3 linked regions of the Homo sapiens genome follow. The protein of the gene in region 2 interacts with the protein of the main gene of each other region in a biochemical or structural test. Each region holds a gene or a part of one and is shown on either strand. Other genes may lie near its edges.

The links. The genes of interacting proteins can lie anywhere in the genome.
Region 1: the proteins of SLX9 (region 2) and UTP14A are reported together in a solved structure, tested with the Homo sapiens proteins (one study listed by BioGRID).
Region 3: the proteins of SLX9 (region 2) and PNO1 are reported together in a solved structure, tested with the Homo sapiens proteins (one study listed by BioGRID).

What each region holds. Positions count from the first base shown.
Region 1 is NC_000023.11:129,901,399-129,909,523, reverse strand, and holds the start of UTP14A (U3 small nucleolar RNA-associated protein 14 homolog A), read right to left. Parts: upstream 3,361-8,125; 5' UTR 3,314-3,360; coding exon 3,288-3,313; intron 2,261-3,287; exon of another isoform or gene 2,158-2,260; coding exon 2,082-2,157; exon of another isoform or gene 1,465-2,081; coding exon 1,394-1,464; exon of another isoform or gene 971-1,393; intron 855-970; coding exon 790-854; intron 1-789. UniProt on the Homo sapiens protein: May be required for ribosome biogenesis.
Region 2 is NC_000021.9:44,970,866-44,977,768, reverse strand, and holds the end of SLX9 (ribosome biogenesis protein SLX9 homolog), read right to left. Parts: intron 4,573-6,903; coding exon 4,504-4,572; intron 1,090-4,503; coding exon 966-1,089; 3' UTR 796-965; downstream 1-795. UniProt on the Homo sapiens protein: May be involved in ribosome biogenesis.
Region 3 is NC_000002.12:68,167,790-68,175,247, reverse strand, and holds part of PNO1 (RNA-binding protein PNO1), read right to left. Parts: intron 1,902-7,458; coding exon 1,831-1,901; intron 514-1,830; coding exon 446-513; 3' UTR 1-445. UniProt on the Homo sapiens protein: Part of the small subunit (SSU) processome, first precursor of the small eukaryotic ribosomal subunit.

The DNA.
Region 1 (8,125 bases), on a different chromosome or scaffold from region 2:
AAAAAAATGTCTTGAGGCCGCGCACGGTGGCTCACGCCTGTAATCCCAGCACTTTGAGAGGCTGCGGCGGGTGGATCACGAGGTCAGGAGATCCAGACCATCCTGGCTAACACGGTGAAACCCCGTCTCTACTAAAAATACAAAAAACTAGCCAGGCGCGGTGGCGGGCACCTGTAGTCCCAGATACTCGGGAGGCTGAGGAAGGAGAATGGCGTGAACCTGGGAGGCGGAGTTTGCAGTGAGCCAAGATCGCACCACTGCACTCCAGCCTGGGCGATAGAGTGAGACTCTGTCTCAAAAAAAAAAAAAAAAAAAAAGGCTTGAAAGGCTCCTCTCAGGGGAGCAATAAAAAAGCAAAGGTTGAGAAATACTGTACTAGGCAAAGGCCCTTGAATAAGTAATGTGACCTCTCTGAGCTCTGGCTGAAGAGAATATTTGCCTGTCTCCTAACTCAAAGCATTGTTAAGAGAACTGAAATAAAAATGAAATTGTACAAATATGAATTATGACTAAGTTACTAAGAGGCAGCTGTCTTTATTCATGTCCATCTATCCTATAAGTATCTCATCAAACTCTGTAGGATACCTTGACCACAGCCTTCTAGGCTTTCTTTGAGAGATGGAAGAAACTGAAGGGCATCTGACTACACTTCTTCACCCACTCTCCCAGGTATTTATGGTATGAGTCATTAACCACATCAAAAACAGTTCCTAGGGGGGGTGAGGTGAACACAATGCCCTTGGAACTCCACAGGTTTCATGCATGGGTATCTTCCTTTGTTCAACTTACCTTCAGAACTGACATTGAACTCTGACACCTTCAGACTAGCCTCAGACCTCTCAGCCAATTTCCGCCTGAAATTAGGCAAAACGATATAATAGGAATGAATAAATTTTATGGGGGCTTGGGGTTGGGAGAGACAAACACTTCTCTCTTCAAACAGGGCTTTGGTTTCTTGTATTTCTTCTAGGGTCATGTTTTGTCATGATGCAGCAAGGAGATCTGTTCCTAACTTGGACTTGGTTGTCTAACCCTCATCTCTTCTCTTTATTACAAGGTAAGCATAGTGGAAAACATATTGGACTTAGATTCAAACACACCTGAACCTGTAACTTATGAGCCAGGTGACCTTGGGGGTAAGTAAATTTATTTCTCTAATGGGGTTAAATAATGCCTACTCAATGCTTTAAAAGATTTTCAGTGTGGAATAAGACTGCAAATGCTTACAATAATAGCACTAAGACTAATAACAGCTAACAGTTAATTATATAATGCTTACTATATGCTAGGCACTGGTATTAAGGTCTTTACATGAAGCACTCAATAAATATTAGCTGCAGAGAAATCTCACGGAATTGACTATATAACCTGCCCTAACTGACGGGAACGTTACCTATTCTTTCCATCAAGGGAACTGATTGCTTCCAGAAGCTTTTGATGCTTTCTCTCTCCATCATTGTCCCCCTAAGACACAGAAAAGGAAAAACAATCAGGATGAGGGGGAGGGAAAAGACAACATGGAAATTGAGTCTCATGTAAAATCTCTTGTTATTTATTTATTTATTTTTGAGACGGCGTCTCGCTCTGTTGCCCAGGATGGAGTGCAGTGGTGTTATCTTGGCTCACTGCAAGCTCCGCCTCCCAGGTTCATGCCATTCTCCTGCCTCAGCCTCCCAAGTAGCTGGGACTACAGGCGCCTGCCACCACGCCTGGCTAATTTTTTGTATTTTTAGTAGAGACGGGGTTTCACTGTGTTAGCCAGGATGGTCTCAATCTCCTGACCTTGTGATCTGCCCGCCTTGGCCTCCCAAAGTGCTGGGATTACAGGCATGAGCCATCACCCGGGCCTGTTTTGGTTGGTCTTATAAATTATACTTATGCAACTTGAGGGTAGTGATTGTAACTTAGTTTCCAAATCCTCATAGCACTTAATATGATACAGTATCTTATATATGAAACACTAACCATTTGCAATTTATTTGAGAGACCTGAACAAATACATAGAACATTGTCACACCCTTCCATTCCAGGAATGTGCTCTCTACCCTAATTTTGAAGGCAGTTTAGCAATTGTCACCCACCTCATCTTCACTCTCACTCAAGAGGTAGTCTTTTGGCAAATCCGCTAGTTCTTCCTGTTGGCTCAAAGCCAGAAGGCTGTTAAAAGAGGCAACAGAGAAATGTGAATGCAATATACCCATGTAACAAACCTGCATATGTATCCCTTAATTATAATAAAAGTCGAAATTAAAAAAAGAAATATTATTATTTGAAGCAATGTCTAATCTATTAAAACAATCTCGAAAACATTGTAATTTCAGCACAGAATAGCCCTATCCCTCAGAAGATATATAAAGCAGCGTGAATGCCTTTGGAAACTTGTCAAGATGTGAAATTTAGACTGAAGTCAGGCATCACCTCCAAGAGTGATGCCTGACTTCAAAACTGCATGTAAAAGAGCTATCACTTTTCAGGGATTGGCACAACATTTCCTATGACCTATGGGAAGCTGTAAAAATGTCAGACCCTAGAATAATATGGCCAAAGACGCTGTTGCTAGCTAGCCCTGGAGGCAAGGCAGTTTCACGATTAATATTTCTAAGCATCCTCCATATATTTGACTCATTGATAGGCAGCCTAATCAAAAGTGTTATCTTGATCCTTGTTCCCAGGAATGGAGAAACAGGTCGAAAGCAGCTGGGTAAGCCACTTTCCCTGGGGCTTGCTTAGTAAAGTAGGTGCTTAACTAAGGAGATTGGTACCCACAAACAAATTATAAAATGTACCATTACCTAACAGCATATATTATTAGTATTTGCAAAGCCAACATTACTAAACGGACTACATTTAGTTCCGGGGGCGGGGTGGGGGGGGCACAAAACATCACAGGAGCCAAAACGTGGTGGATGACTCCAATCAGCAAAGCTTTCCAAGATTCGGGGAGTTTATAACGCCTGCACTGCCTGCGCAGAGGATTAAATCGGGCCGCGACAGAGGCAGAAAAAGGGGCCACGTGACGAAAAATGTGAAACACAGTAAATGAGCTGGGGAGGCAGAAACAGCATCAGGACCAACAGGGATGCGGCTATACAGCTGAGGAGCGGAGTAAGCGAATGAAATTAAATTAAAAGGGCTTTAAAGGCTGGATCGCGGAAAATAGGAACGAATGGCCAGCTCTTCAGGGGAACCACTGCCATCTGTTAAAGGGGGGGCTCCCATTTCCCAAAAGCTGGGGAACCCGGCCCCCAACGAGACCCAGAATCCCCCCTCCCCTCGTTGCCCTTCACCTCTCTGCAAGCCGGTTCGCAGTCATTTCAGCAGCCAGCTTCTCTCACATGGACCAAGAACGGAAGCCGAAGGAAAGCAATTTCCGTGCGGGCCGCAAAGCAATTTCTGTTTCCGTCAATCGCTCGCGACGTACACGTCACTTCCGTTCCGTACGAGGCGTGAGAGAAGCAGGAGCCGTGTAGGGAGGGGCCTGCAGAAAACTGGGAGGCCTGAGATGAAACGGCTGTCAGCGGGTGGGGCATTCCTTTCTCCACCCACCCCGTATTTCTCTGGCGCGCGGGTGTCTGTCCTCCTGGCCCCTGGTTTCCACGTGGCCCAAGGTGGGTTAGCTTAGGGCGACGGTGCTGCGCTCTCAGGGGCTGAGCCCGCGCCTTCATTCGTCACTGCAGAATCCAGAAGGAAAGACTACAGCGCCCGTCCTTGTGCGACGGCGTCCTGCAAGCCGACCACAAGCCAGCTCGGGGGTTTATTGAATGCCTATTAAGTGGCCAGATTGTGCCGGGCCCCGGAGATCCGATGGTGAACATAACAAGTTTCCTTCCATTTAAGGAAAAATCGCCTTTGATCCCTTGTAATTGCAGCTTTGTTCTTCATTTCCTGAGTCAAAAGATTTTTTTTATCCAAGAAGGGGCCATCAGTAACTACGCTTCCTCACCTCCCATCAACTTAAAAAAATTTTTTTAAACAACTTTTTTTCTCCCATCAACTTTTAAGAATTTTATTTATTTATTTTTGAGACAGAGCCTTGCTGTGTCGTTCAGGCTGGAGTGCAATGGCGTGATCTCAGCTCACTGCAACCTCCACCTCCCGGGTTCAAGCGATTCTCCTGCCTCAGCCTCCCGAGTCGCTAGGATTACAGGCACCCGCCACCATGCTCGGCTAATATTTGCATTTTTAGTAGAGACGGGGTTTTGCCACGTTGGCCAGGCTGGTCTAGAATTCCTGGCCTCAAGTGATCTGCCCGCCTCGGCCTCCCAAAGTGCTGAGATTACAGGTGTGAGCCACCGGGCCCGGCCTAATATATATATATATTAATTAATGATTGTAGAAAAATAATAGACAAGAACATTCTTTTCATTTTTTTTTTTTGAGACGGAGTCTCACTCCGTCGCCCACGCTGGAATGCAGTGGTGCGATCTCAGCTCACTGCAAGCTCCGCCTCCCGGGTTCACACCATTCACCTGCCTCAGCTTCCTGAGTAGCTGGGACTACAGGCGCCTGCCACCACACCCGGCTAATTTTTTTTTTTTTTTTAAGTAGAGACGGGGTTTCACCGTGTTAGCCAGGATGGTCTCGATCTCGTGACCTCATGATCCACCCGTCTCGGCCTCCCAAAGTGCTAGGATTACAGGCGTGAGCCACGGCGCCCGGCCCGTTCTTTTCATTCTTGTAATCCATTCCCATTTTGCTTTTGCCCCATTATTCCACAGAAATTGCTCTGGACAAGATCAGCGACACCCAAAGTTGCTAAATAAAACGGATACCTCTCAGTCTTTGGCTTCCCAGAACTTTGTGTGGCATTTAGTAACTGTTGATTTCTTTTCTTTTCTTTTCTTTTCTTTTCTTTTCTTTTTTTTGAGACGGAGTTTCGCTCTTGTTGCCAAGGCTGGAGTGCAGTGGCGCGATCTTGGCTCACTGTAACCTCCGCCTCCTGGGTTCAAGTGATTCTCCTGCCTCAGCCTCCCGTGTAGCTGGGATTACAGGCATGCGCCACCACGCCTGGCTAATTTTTGTTTTTTTTTTTTTTTTGAGACGGAGTCTCGCTCTGTCACCCAGGCTGGAGTGCAGTGGCACAATCTCAGCTCACTGCAACCTCTGCCTCCCTGTTTCAAGTGATTCTCCTGCCTCAGCCTCCCGAGTAGCTGGACTACAGGCACATGCCACCATGCCCGGCTAATTTTTTGTATTTTTAGTAGAGATGGGGTTTCACCGTGTTAGCCAGGATGGTCTCGATCTCCTGACCTCGTGATCCGCCCTCCTCGGCCTCCCAAAGTGCTGGGATTACAGGCGTGAGCCACCGCGCCCAGCCTAATTTTTGTATTTTTAGCAGAGATGGAGTTTCGCCATGTTGGCCAGGCTGGTCTCGAACTCCTGGCCTCAGGTGATCCTCCCACCATGGCCTCCCAAAGTGCTGGGATTATGGGCGTGAGCCACCGCACCCAGCCGATTTGTTTTCTTATTCATGAAATATTTTTGGCCATCTAGTATGTGCCAAGCCTCTAGGCATTGGGAATACATTGGTGAACAAAGCAGATATGTCCCATTGCTTCCTAGAGCTTACTTTCTAGTGGGATTAAAGACAATTTTGTCATTGTTGAAACTCCATCCTGAGATTTCATGACACCATTCTCTCCTGGTATCAGCCCTATGACCATCTTCCTCAGTCTTCTCTGCTGGATGCTTTTAATATACTTTTAATATGCTTACTCCCTAAATGATGATGTTTCCGAGAATTCTGCTCTAAGCCCTCTTTATTTATTACAGATACTCTTCCTAAGTGAAATTGCCTTTAACAGCTGTATGAGAACAAAATTTATATCTCTAGCCCTAATCTCTTTCTTGAGCTCCAGACTGGTATATCTGATTGCCTCCTGGCTATTCTTTTTGCCCCACAAGCACATCAAACATAAAATGACCAATAATTTCTATCTTTTCCACCAGAGTTCCTTTCCTGAATTTCCCATTTGTATGATTGGCCCATCAACTACCCAGTTAGTAAAATCAGAAGTCTGAGAGTCATCTTAGATTCCCCTCCCCCTTATGCTCCACAGCTGTTTGCCCACATTATCAGTTTTACTTCCCTGAGTCTCTTTCAAATATCTCCTTACCTTTCTCCATCATGTTTGCCATTGTATTAGTTCAGACCTTTGCAATTTGAAGCCTGTGGTATTGCAGTAATCTTATAGAAAGGGGGAGCATTATAGCATTTTCATACTCATGAAATATGAAGAATGAACGAATAAATACATTTCATGATGAAGAACCTGAGTTTTAAAGCTGGACTCTGGGATTGAATCTTAGCTCTGTCACTTACTAGTTTTATAATTTTTTGGGGGGGTTGGGGGAGACGGAGTCTCGCTCTGTCACCCAGGCTGGAGTGCAGTGGCGTGATCTTGGCCCACTGCAACCTCCACCTCCCGGGTTCAAGCAATTCTCCTGCCTCAGCTTCCCAAGTAGCTGGGACTACAGGCATACGCCACCACACCCAGCTAATTTTTTGTATCTTAATAGAGACGGGGTTTCACCATGTTGCCCAGGCTGGTCTCGAACTCCTGAACTCAGGCAATCCACCCGCTTCGGCCTCCCAAACTGCTAGGATTATAGGCGTGAGCCACTGTGCCCGACCTAGTTTATAATTTTTGAGTAAGTCCCTTAACTCTCTGTGCCTTTGTTTCCTCTTATTTATTTATTTAGAGACGGAGTCTTGCTCTGTCACCCACGCAGGAGTGCAGTGGCTCGATCTCGGCTCACTGCAATCTCTGCCTCCCGGGTTCAAGCAGTTCTTCTGCCTCAGCCTCCTGAGGGGCTGGGATTACAGGCATGCGCCACCGCGCCTGGCTAATTGTTGTTGTTGTTGTTTTTGTTTTGTATTTTTAGTAGAGACAGGGTTTTGCCACATTGGCCAGGCTGATATCGAATTCCTGGCCTTAAGTGATCCACCCGCCTTGGCCTCCCAAAGTGCTGAGATTACAGGCGTGAGTCACCCCGCCCAGGCTGTTTTCTCATCTTTAAAATGGGGATAATAGGCCTGGCATGGTGGTTTACCCTGTAATCCCAGCACTCTGGGAGGCCAAAGCGGGAGGATCACTTGAGCCCAGGAGTTCAAGACTAGCCTGAGCAACAGAGTGAGACTCCATCTCTATTTTTAAAAACAAATAAAAGAAAATATTTGGGAAAGAGCAACAAAGAAAAACCCAAAACAATACTAAGAATACAATAAAACAATATACAGTATAATTATTTACATAGCATTCACATTGTATTGGGTATTATAAGTAATCTAGAGATGATTTAAAGTATATAAAGGTCGGGCTTGGTGGCTCACGCCTGTAATCCAAGCACTTTGGGAGGCCGAGGCAGGTGGATCACCTGAGGTCAGGAGTTCAAGACCTGGCCAACATGACGAAACCCCGTCTCTACTAAAAATACAAAAATTAGCCAGGTGTGGTGGTGGGTGCCTAGAATACCAGCTACTCGGGAGGCTGAGGCTGAGAGAGTTGCTTAAAACCCAGGAGGTGGAGTTTGCAGTGTGCTGAGATCGCGCCACTGCACTCCAGCCTGGGCGACAGAGCGAGACTCTGTCTCAAAAAATAAAGTAAAGTAAAGTAAAGTAAGGTAAGGTAAGGTAAGGTGAGGTGAGGTGAGGTAAGGTAAGGTAAGGTAAGGTAAAGTAAAATAAAATAAAAAAAAACAAAACATGTATATAAGAGTATGTGCATAGGTTATATGCAAATACTATACCATTTTATGTCAGACTTGAGCATCTTTGTATTTTGGTATCCATGAGGGTCCTGGAACCAATCCTTCCCAGATACTGAGGGACAACGTATTTGTCACATATTAAATGCTTAACAAATGTCATAATAATAATAATGATTTTACTGACCTTTTAGTCTTTAGTCTCACTTCATCTAATCACTTAAGTTAGGCCACAGCATGCCCCTACTTAAAAGATGCAAATAGACCCTTATCGCCAAAATAAGAAAAACTCTCTAGTCCCTGTCAGCCTCTCCATCCTCTTTGAAACACTTGCCACTTCCCTCAGGGTACTCCAAATTATATTTTTATGGACAGATGATGTTTTCTTAATCTTATATAAAGTATGAATAAAAGCATT
Region 2 (6,903 bases):
CTGGGACGGGGGGAGCTCGGGCAGGGGGAGCCAAGCTGGGCCTCAGGGGCCTGGGGACGCACCACCCCCTTGCTTTCCACAACCTGAAAACAAGGACTGATCAGTCACTGATTCACAGTCCAAAAACCAACCCCCAAATCCCAGGGCTTCCAGCAACAAAGGAGGACCTCTCTCACTTCCGGGTCAGCAAGAGCTTCAGGGCTGGGCCCACTCCGCGTCTCCTCCCTGCAGAAGGACCCTCTGCTCTCCGCCCCCAGAGCAAGGCAGTGGGCTGCCTGGGTGTGGAGCAGCTGGGTAGGGTGAGGGCAACGGGTGGGGTAGGGGGGGTGCAGCCCACAGGCGAGGAGCAGGCCGGGGGCCTTGCCAGGGCCATCTGTGTCCCTGGTCACTGAGGATGGCAGGGGAGACTGGAAGGGAAACAGACCCCCAGGTGGTGAAGGCCCTGAGCCAGCCCCCACGGCAGCCCCTGCAGGCCTCAGTGCTCCTGGATCCTACCAGGGCCGCAGCAGGAACTGAGGCTGAAGCAAATCAGGGCGGCTGGTGGCACAGCTGGGGCCACACCCAGGCACAATTCCTTCCCAACACAGCCAGCAGACTATCTTGTGGGCACCAGCGCCTGCTCAGGGACGGACTTGGGGCCTCCACAACTGCAGTCCCCACAAACCCTGTGCACGGTCCACCCTGACTGCGTGGGGGCTGGGGCCCCCAGTGGAGGGATGTGGCTTGTTGTCCTGAGGAGAGTGGGGGCAGCTGTCCCAGGGTGTGCCCAGCCCTGTGAATCAGGGAAGCAGCTCATGGGAACGGCCCTGGCAGTGCAGGGGAAGTTCACAGAGCCATTTATTGAGCCCCACAACCGACCAGAGGGAAGGGCGTCCACCAGGCTCAGGCCATGGTCCTTGAGGGGCCGGCGCTCTCTACTTGGCCCACATGTGTCCTGAGGAGTTGTGGCATGCCCGCTGCCCTGGTCAGAGCTGGCCGCCATCTTCCAGCTGCATCTGCCGGGCCAGCGTCTGCCCGATGGCCACCAGGGGGCTGGCTCTGTAGGCCGGACTGGCCAGCAGCTCCTGAAACCGGGTCCTTTCTTCCTCGCTGAAAGAATGGAGACCACAGATCAGCAGGCAGGAACCCCCGGACCCCTCAGCCCCTCAACACCCGGAAACGTCAGACACCGAAATGAATGGCAGAGGCCTGGGGCCACCACGGGACTGAGTACTGGGGCCTCGGAAACTTCCGGCAGGAGGGGAGAGGCTGCCCCGGGCCCTCCTCGTGGCCACGTGCATCCCAGAGCCCTGGCAGCGCCCACTGTGGGGTCTGCCGTTGAGGTGTCACCCAGCCAGCAAGTCTGGGGCTGATGGGGCTGCCGCCAAGGCTGAGAAACGCGGCGGCAACTCCCAAGCCCTGCAGACTCACTCCTTACATGAGAGACGGCTCCCTCCACGGGCAACCAAAATAGGTGCACACAGAGGAGAGCCGAGAGCCGAGAGCCGAGAGCCTGAGCCGGCAGAGGCCTGCAGCAGAGTGGGGCGCGGCAGCCCCAGATGGGTGCCACGGCGACGACCCAGCATGGCACCAGCTCACCCCAGCCGCCACCCAGCCCGGCGGCCACTCAGCTCCTGCTCTAAACCCCGCGCAGCCAGCCGCACGCCAGAGAGCTGCCCTGTGGAACACAAAAGGTGGCCTGGGTCCCCTCTCAGGCACAGAAGCCTCGGGGGCAGCTCCCAGACGGGCTCTGCCGCAGCTGCCAAGAGGCCCTGAGCCTGGTGGCGGGGAGGTGGGGCCTGTACCCCTCCGGCCTGTGTGCCCCGTGTGCACGGAGCCTTGTGCAAGGCTGGACCACACTGGCCCTGGTTTCCTGGGCAGTTGACAAGGCTCTTTCACACCCCGCTGGACGACCGCCTGGGCGGGGTGCCCACACACCAGAGCCACAGAGGACAGTGGGGCTGGGGCCGTCTCCACAGCAGGAGGCGGTCAGGGCTCTGCTGGTCACTAACCACCACCTCCTCCTGCCACTGCCACCCTGGCCCCAGCATGGCAGCTGGGGCTGTCCCCGTAAAGTCAGGGTGAAATGCCCCAGTCACAGCCTGGACATTACTAGTGATCTCTGGGGCTACCAGGACCCAACAAGGCCCCACCTGGGGCAACTGAGGAGCCGAGGCCAGGGGAAGGCCCAGGCCAGGTTCTTAGCACTGTGGTCCACTGGGCAGAGTCCTGGGTCAGAGCTGGGGAAGGAAAGGAGCCGTGACAGTGACGCTTGGAAGCGAAGCTGCACGGGGAGGGGCTGCAGGGGGAGCCTGTGCCTGCGCCTGAGTTTAGACACTATGGGACACGGGTTCGGTGCCCCTGGCACTGTGTGGCTCCCATGCTGGGCCAGGCCTCCAGATGCCATCCTGGACAACCGTAAACAGAGACCCATAGACGGGGCCTCCCACCTGAGAGAAAAGCCCTTCCTTGGTTTCGTACTCAGGGGAGCAGCCTTGGGGCACGGACCACCAGCTCCAGGAGCTACAAGGCTCATGCCCAACATGAAGCCCCCAGGGGAGCATGACCCAGGGAGGGGAACACTCTTGCTTCCCACTGGGATCTTGGGATCGAAGGATCCAAGCCACTCAAACACCTGAGCCCTGTCCACAGGCGCCAGAAAGCACCATGGACATGAAAGGGAACAGACCTCTGGCTCCAAAACACGGAGTGAACAAGGAAGGGGCCTCCTGCTCTCCTCTCAGAAGCAGCGAGAAACCAAACTCCATCTTTGATGAAACCAGGAGACCCGTTAACCTGAGCTGCTTCAAAATGCCGCGACCGCAAGGACATGGGGGCACCGAGGGGTGCGGGCGACAGACAGTCTGCAAGAGGAAAACCCGTCGCCCTGTCCAGGCAGGGAGGGGCTCCCCGGACCAGGCTGTGCACTGGGGAGAGGCGGAGAGGGAGGCCAGGCAGGACGATGGCCACACGGAGAGGGCTCTGCTGTTCGCAAACTGTCTCCAGACAAGACTGGCCTGGGAAGAACTCAGTTCATAAACAGAGAAGCAGAAACCAAAGAGGACAAACACAAAGATCTACGGGAAGACCCTGCTCCTCAGGAGGCCGAGGCAGGAGGATCGCTGCAGCCCAGGAGGCGGAGGCTGCAGTGAGCCTTGATCACACCTCTGCACTCCAGCCTGGGCCACAGAGCAAGGAACTGTCTCTAAAAAATAAAAATAAAAACTTTTTAAAAAACTAAAAAAGACAGTTTACTATACTATCTATACTTCACCTAGACCCTACAAAGTGTCTAGAGTAAAAATGGATTAGAGAACATGAGATGGAAGACAGATAGATTAGAGAGATCCAGTAAGTGCATAATTGGTGCCCCTGAAGAAGGGCCGAGACAATAAAGAAATCTTTGGAGCTACCATTCGACACCAGCTTCCCAACATAACTGTACTCACAAAACAGACAGCAGCTTCTAAGCATAATCGAACTCACAAAACAGACTTCAGACTCTCAACTGGAAAGGCACAATGGGCCTCGGTAGAACTGACACAAAACGCTCCCACTGATAAACACCTGAGTAAAGCCATTTCAAACCACAGGAAAAATCATCCCAGCAGCTAACTAAAACCATCTTACAAGGGCGTAAAATGTGGCTCTCTCAGTGGAAACTGGAGCTGAGTCTGCAAAGAGGCAAGAGAGCGTGCGTGGTCTGGAGATTTTTGTACCCAAGAGGACAACTGAGTACAAATTTCTGCAAATCAGTGTCCTAGCCCTGCTAACTGGGGGCCGCAGTGCCCAGTCACAGAACCAAACGTATCATCCAGATTTCAACCAGCCAGCGGAGGGGAGGGGCGGAGATGGGGCTGCGTCCACCCATCATTTTAGATCCATGACTCCCCTTGGAAGCCTTCCTGGGAGGCGGGACTTGACCCAGGGCCACAGGACCTGACTGCACTGAAAAGCCCCCCTGGAGCAGACAGGCAGGAGCCAGCGGAGCAGCGTGGAGGGGACTAGAGGCACGGGCGGGGCTCTCAGCCGCTGAACCCCTGGGAGGGCAGGCTGGAGGCACTCAGGACCCCTGGAGAGGGCGGGGTGGGGGCACACAGGAGCTGAACCCCTGGAGAGGGTGGGCGGGGCGAGGGCACATAGGAGCTGAACCCCTGGAGAGGGTGGGCGGGGTGAGGGCACTCAGGAGCTGAATCCCTGGAGAGGGTGGGCGGGGCGAGGGCACATAGGAGCTGAACCCCTGGAGAGGGTGGGCGGGGTGAGGGCACTCAGGAGCTGAATCCCTGGAGAGGGTGGGCGGGGTGAGGGCACTCAGGAGCTGAACCCCTGGAGAGGGTGGGCGGGGTGAGGGCACATAGGAGCTGAACCCCTGGAGAGGGTGGGCGGGGTGAGGGCACTCAGGAGCTGAACCCCTGGAGAGGGTGGGCGGGGTGAGGGCACATAGGAGCTGAACCCCTGGAGAGGGTGGGCAGGGTGAGGGCACTCAGGAGCTGAACCCCTGAGGAGGTGGGCAGGTGCACTCACAGAAGCTGCTGTCTCTGGGCTGCGCTCATCCGGCTGAGCTCTGAGGGCCGGGGCTTGTTGCTCTCCCTGCTGTGGACACAGAGAAGCCACGTGAGTCAGCATCCAGCATCCCCTAAACACCTTCCCGTGGGCAGAGGCTGGCTCCTCCCTTCTTAGAGCAGACGTCGTGGTGGCCAGAGGTGACCAAACCACTGCAGAACCACAAGTTCCAAGCTGCACTGTGGCCATGGAGGCGAGACCTGGACAAGCAGTGCAACTGCCTGACCGTCCTGTGACCGCCCCGGACAAGCAGTGCAACTGCCTGACCGTCCTGTGACCGCGGGCCCCAAGCTGCTCCGTGTGGAATCTGGTGACTCCTGCAGCTCCTCCTGGCTCCATGGGACATGGAGGGAGTGGTCAGCCAGGAACACGTCTCACGATATACAGCGTCTCCACCCCACCTGCCTGGCCAGGGCAGGCTGCGCAGACACCTCACACTTCGGGCCAAAGGACCCTGGCAGGCACAGCCAGTCCCACTCCCGCAGTACACACCACTTCCCAGGAAGGCTGAGTCACCCACCCAAGCCTACATGTCCCCAGGTCCTCTCTTTAGAAGAAGGCGCACGCTGTGCTACAGTGGGAAGCTGCACCTGCCCTCCTGATGACTGAACTTGGGGACAGGGGCGTGGACCCACCGTAGATCCTGCCCTGCCTGCACCTGCGGGGGGTGCCAACGAGCACTGCAGTCCCCCATGGACAGGTGGAGGAACTGAGGAGGTTTCCTGAGTGCTGCTGGCTATTTCCTTTAGTCCTGGGATCTCCAAACCACCAAGCTGGGCCTTGACTAAGGGCACGGGCGGGCCAGGACACTCTCATCTCTGACGTCCACCCCAGGCAGGCTCCGGCTGCCCGCGGAGCTTCTCACCCTCAGTTAACCGTGGGAATCTTCGGGAGCTCGCCTGCACTCCTTGTGGTCAGCCGGCCAAGGCAGCCGCCCACCTGGCCGAATGTTCACATGGGACAGCGACCTGGGCCTTAAAAGGAACAGAGAACCCGCAAGGCCACACCAGGCGCCTTCTCAGATCTGCCGTCCACACAGTGAGATGGGACCCAGACGACGGCGGGAAGGCAGAGACGCAGAGTCCTCAGACCAGCCCTACACTTAGCCTCGGGCCAGGAGACTTCATCTTTTATTCATGGATCTCTTAAAATATGAATGACAGACATTTTGTGTCTGCCCAAAATAGCCCTCAGCACCCGCTTTCTTTTAACCCTAGCTCTGCGCTGATCTGGGGAAGGAATCAGTCCCCATCCCTTCCTGCTCACACTGGCAGATGACAGCCCCTCGCATCTCCCGTCCCCTCTGCCCGCTCAAAGCCACAGCTCCATTCATTGCAGGGGCTCTGCCGGGGCTGACGACATCTCCCCACGGCCTCTCCTGGGCCAGCCTTGCCCCGATGCAGAAGCTCTGCCCCCCTGGCCAGCCGACCCCCTCCCTGTGTCCACCCCTGAGCAGCAGCTCCCTCACTGACTGCCCAGAGCTGTCCCCGGTCCCCATCCTTGCAGAAGCCATCAGCGTGGGGCCCCTCCTCTAGGTGCACCCTGGTGCCAGGGCTCTGGGCAGCCACGTGCTGGGTCAGGAGACCTGAGCCCGGGTCCAGGACATCCTTCCTGGTTGGGGAAACCTCGGGCCCTGGAGCTGCACCCTCACTTTAAGAGATGAACTAGCAGTGGGGGTGGGACCAATGCCTCCCAAGGTCCCAAAGCAGAGGAGCTGCACCCAGGGTGGCTGCAGTGCCCATGAGGCCAGGCGCGGCACCTCCCCTCCCCACTGCGGGGACCGTCCCCCACCCACGCGTCCCACACCCCATCCTCCCAGGCGGGACGCACAGCCTACCCAGTGGGGTTTCCGGAGTTCAGGGCCCCGGGGACAGAGTGCTGGGCGGTTACCGTCATGGGCCAAGGGCAAGCACCGGCAGGGACGCGACTCCACGAGGCCTAACAGCAGGAAGCCGAGGAGGAATTGGAGCCTAACTCCGCCCAGTGTGGACCCTCACCAGCCCCCACGGCACTCCCTCCAGGCAGGAGCAGCGGCGTCACCACCACTCCCCTCCCGACAATCACCCACAAAGCGCACACAGGAGGCGGAGGTCCACAGCATGGGGGGTCCCCTCCCGACAACTGCCCACAAAGCGCACACAGGAGGTGGAGGTCCAGAGCATGGGGGTCACCGGAGTCAAGTGTCGCTCGATGCCTGCTTCCCAGCCAGGAGTGACGTGGACCCCAAACACGGGCCCTGCCCTGGCCTCTGAGATTCCAGCTCTGCATCCTGCACCCCAGGGGCATGAGGCCCTCAGGGCAGGGCGCCAGGACAGGGGATTGAGGGAGCTGGGTTGGGAGGGGACTGAGGGGACTGAGGGT
Region 3 (7,458 bases), on a different chromosome or scaffold from region 2:
TATTAAGGAAGGGTCATCATTCAGAGAGGTTTTTCTGAGATAATCTATTAAATTACAATTTATAAAGAAATGTTTATAAATTTGTATGAAGTTATAAATTTATAAATATAAAAGTATAAATCCATATAGAGCTGTTTAAACAAGAAGTTTCCCTCTGAGAGGATTACAGACTATGCAATCTGCTACATGTGATTTCAGATAAATGATAAATTATACCTAATGTGTTAAGTATAACAATCAATTTTTGATATTTAAATTATCCTAAAACCTGTTGAGTGTGAATCCTCTTAAATCTTTCTTTTCTGTTTATGCTTCTGGCTGAGAATGGAAGAAGGGACGGAGGCTTCAAATGACTGAAATTGTTCAGCTGGTTTCTTGTGACCGACCACTGTAAAGTATTTTTCACCAGAGTCCAAAGGCAAGATAAAAAGTCTCTGACTTGAAATCAGAATCGATCTGCTGATCTGCTAGCCACAGCTCGAATATTGCCATAAACCTTGGAAGGAGGATTTCCTGCAAAGGGGAAAAAAAAGTATATACACAAATAAACTCACATTTATAGCGCCTACAGTTGTCCCTCAGTGTCTAAGGAAGACTGGTTTCAGGACTCCCACAGACACCACAATCCTTGGATGCTCAAGTCTCTTACATAAAAAATATGCACATTAACTACCCACATCCTCCCATATACTTTAAATCATCTCTAGATTACTTATAATACCTAATACAATGCAAATGCTATGTAAATAGTACTGTATTGTGTTTTAAAATTTGTATTATTTTTAATTTGCCATTATTTTTATATATTTTTTTTCTGAGTATTTGATCTGCCATTGGTTCGATCCGCAGATGTGGACCTTGCAGACAGAGGGCAGACTGTACGTGAAAAAGGGTCTAGAACCCTAAAAAGAACAGAGACATTTTAATTGGAAATTACAAAAAAAAAAAAAAAAAAAAAACCTTAACAGAAATAATACCCAAATATTCTCCAAAAAATATTTTAAACTTCTAAGAGCGAAAGGCACTGAGTTGTTAAAATATTTCAAAAAGAAGCCAATCACTGAGGCCTGAGAACCAGAAAATCCCAATTTTCTGAGCAAGCCGCTAAGATCCTGCAACTCTTATCAGAAAGTACTGACTTTGCTGCAGGATCAAGAAAATGGGTTAAGTGGATCAATTAAATTGCCTGAAGCTGTTCAGCAGCTCTTCCTTTGTTAAACCTAAAATGTGATGTTCCCTGCTATTCTGGAATGGTTTTTCTCTGCACCTTATCAAGAAGGCAGCAAAGATTTAAGCAATATTACCCAATAAACACCTTCTCTTCTCTTGCAGACAAATGGAATCTAAGCAAAAGTATTTCTACTTCTGGCTGGGCGTGGTGGCTCACGCCTGTAATCCCAGCACTTTGGGAGGCTGAGGTGGACGGATCACAAGGTCAGGAGTTCGAGACCAGCCTGGCCGATATGGTGAAACCCCGTCTCTACTAAAAATGCAAAAATTAGCCAGGCAAGGTGGCAGGCGTCTTTAGTCTCAGCTACTCATGAGTCTGAGGCAGGAGAATCGCTTGAACTTGGGAGGCAGAGGTTGCAGTGAGCCGAGATCGCACCACTGCACTCCAACCTAGGCGACACAGCGAGACTCTGGCTCAGAAAAAAAAAAAAAAAAAAAAAATTCTACTTCCTTCTCTAGGCCCACCTTTGCCAACTCCCAAGGGTTTCTACTTGCGATCTTTAATATTACCCTAAATTGCTTTGCAAATGTGGTTTTGACTTCCTCAATTAACTTCCTATCCCTCCCAGAGAAAACACCAAAGAAAGAAACTGCTATTACCCAAGATTAGGTTGCAAATGGCAGTTCTTGCCATCTTGATATTTTGGAAGGAGCCAAGGATGTGAACTTTCCTGAAAGAAATAAAATGAGACAAATTAGTGGCTGGGATGCAATGACTCACACCTGTAATCCCAGCACTTTGGAAGGCCAAGGCAGGTAGATCATTTGTGGCCAGGAGTCTGAGACAAGCCTGGACAGCATAATGAGACGCCATCTCTACAAAAAAATTCAACAGTTAGCTGGGTGTAGTAGCACGTGCCTGTAGAGTGCAACATGCCAACCTGAGTGACAGACCAAAACCCTCTCTCTTAAAAAAAAAAAAAAAAAAAAAAAAGACATTGTAGACAAAAAAGCATTTCCTTACCTAAGTCCTGTACTCCAAAAATGCTGGAAAATCATGATATTTGAGTCAGATTCTTTAATGAGGGCAGTGGTTATGGCTGCACAACTCCATGAATATACTAAAAACCACTTTTTAAAAGGGTGAATTTTATGGTATATGAATTGTATCCCAATAAAAAATTATTAGAAAAGACAAAGAATTGTTTGAAAAAGAAAAATTTGTGAAGATTCTTGGTTAATGATGGCTCCCATCCTATGAGTGCTTTATGTGCCAGGGCTTTCTATGCATGCCCTCATTAATCCTCACATGACCTTCCTGTTTTACGGATGAGGAGAGAAGTTTATAAGAAATCAAAAAGCCTGCCCAAGACGACACACTGGCAGAGCTGGTTACTGAATACCCATAAATGCAATACTGTACTCAATTTCAACATAATTGGTTTTCAACTGCAAAGTTTCCTAAAGATTATCTAAATTTCTTCAGGGCTCTGAGGATCATTTAGACCCTTTTAATGGGCATTCTTTACTGAATGACAAAACTGACAAGATACAATTTTGCCTTTTTGAGTCCATCTTCCAAACTGTTTTCACTGTGCCCTGTACAAATCAGCTAAAGCTTCTATATCTTCAACCCCTGTTAATATTCCCTTCACCTTCTGGCTTCAACTAAGGCCAGATCTCAAATGGTGGCCAGTTCTTCCTCCACAAACCAGGTACCTCTGGGCCTGGGGGAGGAGCAGGTGTCTTCATGCCACATCCAGACCACATGCTCTCCCTCTTGCCTCCCTAAAAACCCTTTGGCTTTGGATCTGCTCTGAGGCCACATCACCCACCACCCTGCCTGGCTGCGGTCCTCAGCTGCCCCTACAGATCACCTGTGAAGATGTTAGCTCTTGGCTTGCTTTCTCTTGCTATTCCCCATCACCATGCTCGATCATGTCAATACCCATGAAGATGATAATCCCAACATGCCAGCCTCTCAGGTCCTTGATATCCTTTATGCCAACATGGGGTCTTGTTTTCCACCCTACTCCAGCCTCTTCCATCCATGGTCACACCCTGGACTTGGTCATTACCAAAAACTGCAACCCCCCCATAATTTCGATTTCAAACATCCAACTCTCCCTTCACCACTTTCTGTCATTCCACTCATATCAACACAAATAATCCTTCACCCCTACCCCAGGACCTCCCATCTATGGATCCTACTCACCTTCACTGCCCTTCGCCCCCTCACATCCCACCTCCCTTCCTCTGCTCACAATCATCCAATGACTTCCTATTCACTCCGAGTAAAAGCCAAAGTCCTTATGATGACCTCAGTGAGGCCCTATTATTTTTGACTCATCTGTCACTCTCCGCTCTCTCCCTTTCATCCTTGGTCAAGCCTCCTCGCTCACTGCCAGATGTGCCCTCAACTCAAGATCTTTGTGCTTTCCCCTTCCTCTGTAATGCTCTTCCTCCAGACACCTGCAGATGAACAAAACAAACATTTACAAATGCTCCTTCCTCAAACTCCACTAAAATGACAGGAAAGATGTAAGCCCAAAAGGAAGAAGAGAGTAATAACAGTAGCAAAGTCCAAAAAGGTGGAAAGCAGATGGAGGAGATGGAACTGACTGTGCAGACCGAAGTCAACTGATGCCTAAATCAGCAGCAGGAATATCAAGAAGCAGAACTCTGGGAAAGAGACTCCAAGAGGCAGGGGACAGGGAACCCAGGATGATGGCTGTGCAGCCAGAATGCACGCAGAAAGCATGGGGGCGTTTTTGGAACAGAACATCTCCAGGAGAGATTTCTCAAATATTAGATGCATTCGAATACATCAAGAGGAGATACAGACAACGTATAGCTTCTTACTGAATTAGTACGACGAAAATGAAGAAAGGACATAGACACATAAGAGTTACTTCCTCAAGTGAAAACAATGCTGCAAAAGAAAGATAAGGCAGTCACAGTATTTCACCTGGCTCAGCTATAAGTACACTGAGCACTGATTTCTGTTTTCAGGTAATACTGAACACGAATCTAACAAAAACCACAAGGGGACCATCAGGAGGACAGAGAAGAATAAATCGGAGTGACAGAAAGGCTGAGTGTGTGCAGTGGAAGTAAGGGGGTGAAAGACAGCTAAATCTTCATCTTTGATGGTAGAAAGTCAATAGTGAATCTGAAAAATAAGAGGCTGTATATGAACAAAATATCTGGAAATACAGAGACAAATAATTTTTTAAGATAAGCTAAAAGAGTTGAAATTGGTTCCCCTGAAAAGGGTGAAATGGAGGTAGGCAGTAGAAATTTTTGGCTTTTTTTTTTTTTTTTTTTTTTGAGACGGAGTCTTGCTCTGTCCCCCAGGCTGGAGTGCAGTGGCGCAATCTCGGCTCACTGCAAGCTCCGCCTCTCGGATTCTCGCCATTCTCCTGCCTCAGCCTCCCAAGTAACTGGGACTACAGGTGCCCACCACCACGCCCGACTAATTTTTTTGTATTTTTAGTAGAGACGGGGTTTCACCGTGTTAGCCAGGATGGTCTCGATCTCCTGACATTGTGATCCGCCCGCCTCGGCCTCCCAAAGTGCTGGGATTACAGGTGTGAGCCATCACGCCCGGCCAATATTTGGCTTTTTAAAACTATGTGTATGTTTAACTTTGATTAAAATTATTTAAAACAGAGCATGACAGATGAGGAAATAAAGACAACAAGAACAGATGGGAGTAGTTTTGCTGCACAAAGAACCAAAGTAATGGGGCAATAGTTGGAAAGGAATGGAGGCTTCAAGACACAGAGGCAACATCATTTCCCATCTGCTGTATTAAACATACCTGGAACCAATTGTTTTTAGTTTTCTATCTGGCTCACATTATACTTACTGTATTTTGCCAGGTTATTGGCAACTCATCAAAAATAACTTTTATAGGTACACAACAGCCCATCTAACAGCTTTATTATAATTAATATAAACTGTTAAACGTGGATTTCCAACTAGCCTGTCTACAGCAAAAGCAAGAGATAGTACATCTCTTAATTTCAAGTAGTCTGTAATTCAGTTTGTAAGAAAACACAAAAGATATAAGTAATTCAGTAGCAACATTATTCTCATAGCCACAAACTGAAAACAACCCAAAAGTCCATCTACTGTGACTGGATAAACAAGATGTAATACAGCTGACTTTTGAATAATAGGTTTGAACTGCACAGGTCCAGTTACACACAAATTTTTTTCAACACATATACTGGAAGATATTTTGGAGATGTGAAAAAACCCAGAGAGGAGCTAAGTATCGTAGAAATGTCAAAAAAATTAAGAAAAAGCTACGTCATGAATGCATAAACTGTATGTAGGTACTAGTCTATCTTATTTACTACCGTAAAATATACACAAATCTATTATAAAAAGTTAAAATTAAAACTTACGCACACAAACACAAGCCATATATGATGCCATTTGTAGTCAAGAGAAATGGAAACAAATGCAAAGATGCAGTATTAAATCATAACTCCATAAAATTAACTGTAGTGCATACTGTACGACAACTTCACAGCCACCACCTATTGCTCTTGTGGTGAGCTCAGGTGTTGCAAGTATCCACTTAGAATGCCATGTGATGCTGATCACATGTGATGCTGATTATCTCCCATAAGCAGTTTTGACTCTCCAATAAACTGTCTATCACAGTAGAAAGTGATTTCTCGCAGTTCTTGCCTATTTTTAATCTTAGTGCAATATTGTAAGCTTTGGGACCATAGGACCCACCCAACGTGGGTCCCACATAAAGTGCCACTAGTGATGTTGGGAGTGCTCCAAAGCAGCACAGAAAAGTCATGACAGTACAAGAAAAAGCTGAACTGGCCAGGCGCAGTGGCTCACACCTGTAATCCCAGCACTTTGGGAGCCCGAGGCGGGTGGACTGCGAGGTCACGAGATTGAGACCATCCTGCCTAACACGGTGAAACCCCATCTCTACTAAAAATACAAAAAAATTAGCTGGGCATGGTGGCAAATGCCTATAGTTGCAGCTACTCAGGAGGCTGAGGCAGGAGAATCCATTGAACCCGGGAGGTGGAGGTTGCAGTGAGCCGAGATTGCACCACTGCACTTCAGCCTTGGCGATAGAGGGAGACTCCATCTCAAAAAAAAAAAAAAAAAAAAAAAAAGAAAAAAGCTGAATTGCTTGATAGGTACTGTTGACTGAGGCCTGCAGTTGCAGTTGCCCACCACTTCAAGATAAATGACTATACCATAGGACCATTGTAAAAAAAAGAAAAGGAAATTCATGAAGCTGTCACTGCAGCTATAACAGCAGATATGAATACACCTGCAGTTTTGCCAAATACCCCTTTATCTTATAAAATAAAAATAAAGCCCCTAGGCGCCCAGGCAAGACAGAACAGACTGTGGCAATAAGATATCAAATTGTAAACAAGACCTAAGACCACCTGGGCAAGGGTTAAGTCATACACCCTACACTTAAAGAGTAAATGACATTCTAATTGCCACAGGATATTTTTTTTTCTCTAGCAGCTTAACAAGCACTGGCCTTGTGATAAACAATATTAAAACAATTACAGCTCACCAACAGCTAGATACAGATTGACCCCAGCTTCCCTCTTCCCACACTCTGTTCCACAAACAGTAACTACAGCTTTGATTGGACAAGAGACTGATCCCAGTAACATCTCCTGATAAGAGATCACTGACCATGGACTGGTACTACCAGCTTCCAGAGGCAGTGCATTCAGTTGTCATGTCCCTGTCCCTATTTCATCTTGTAACATACAGGATCTAATTGTCAGGTATTTTAAATGTTAAGTCTCCACCCCAAAGCGACCAGGGGTTGTACATTTACTCGGTATACAAGCATTAGGACCCCTCTTATATTCAGAGCTCCTCCTATAACCTGTTAAATAAGTATACTTGGCCAACGCATTCAGCATAAATTCCTGTCTCATCCTTTCCTCCTTCAGAGTGCCTGCTTTTGGTCTCTGCTGAAGGCTATACTTTCCAGCCTGTCAGAATGGCCACCCTGCAGACTGCAACCCTTTCTAAGAAATAAAGTTTCCTCTCCAAATTTATAGATCTTGTGATTCTTTTCTTGACAATCTCAAATTGGAAATGCAGCTTTTATGTGGGTGCAGGATTGTTCTAAGAAAGACACATCTATAGAGTCTAATATGATGGAGAAAAAAATTAAGTCATTATATGACAACTTACAGCAAAAGGAAAATGAAGGATCTAAAGCTGGAGAACTTAACGCCAGCAAAGGATGCTTCGATAATGTTAGAAAGA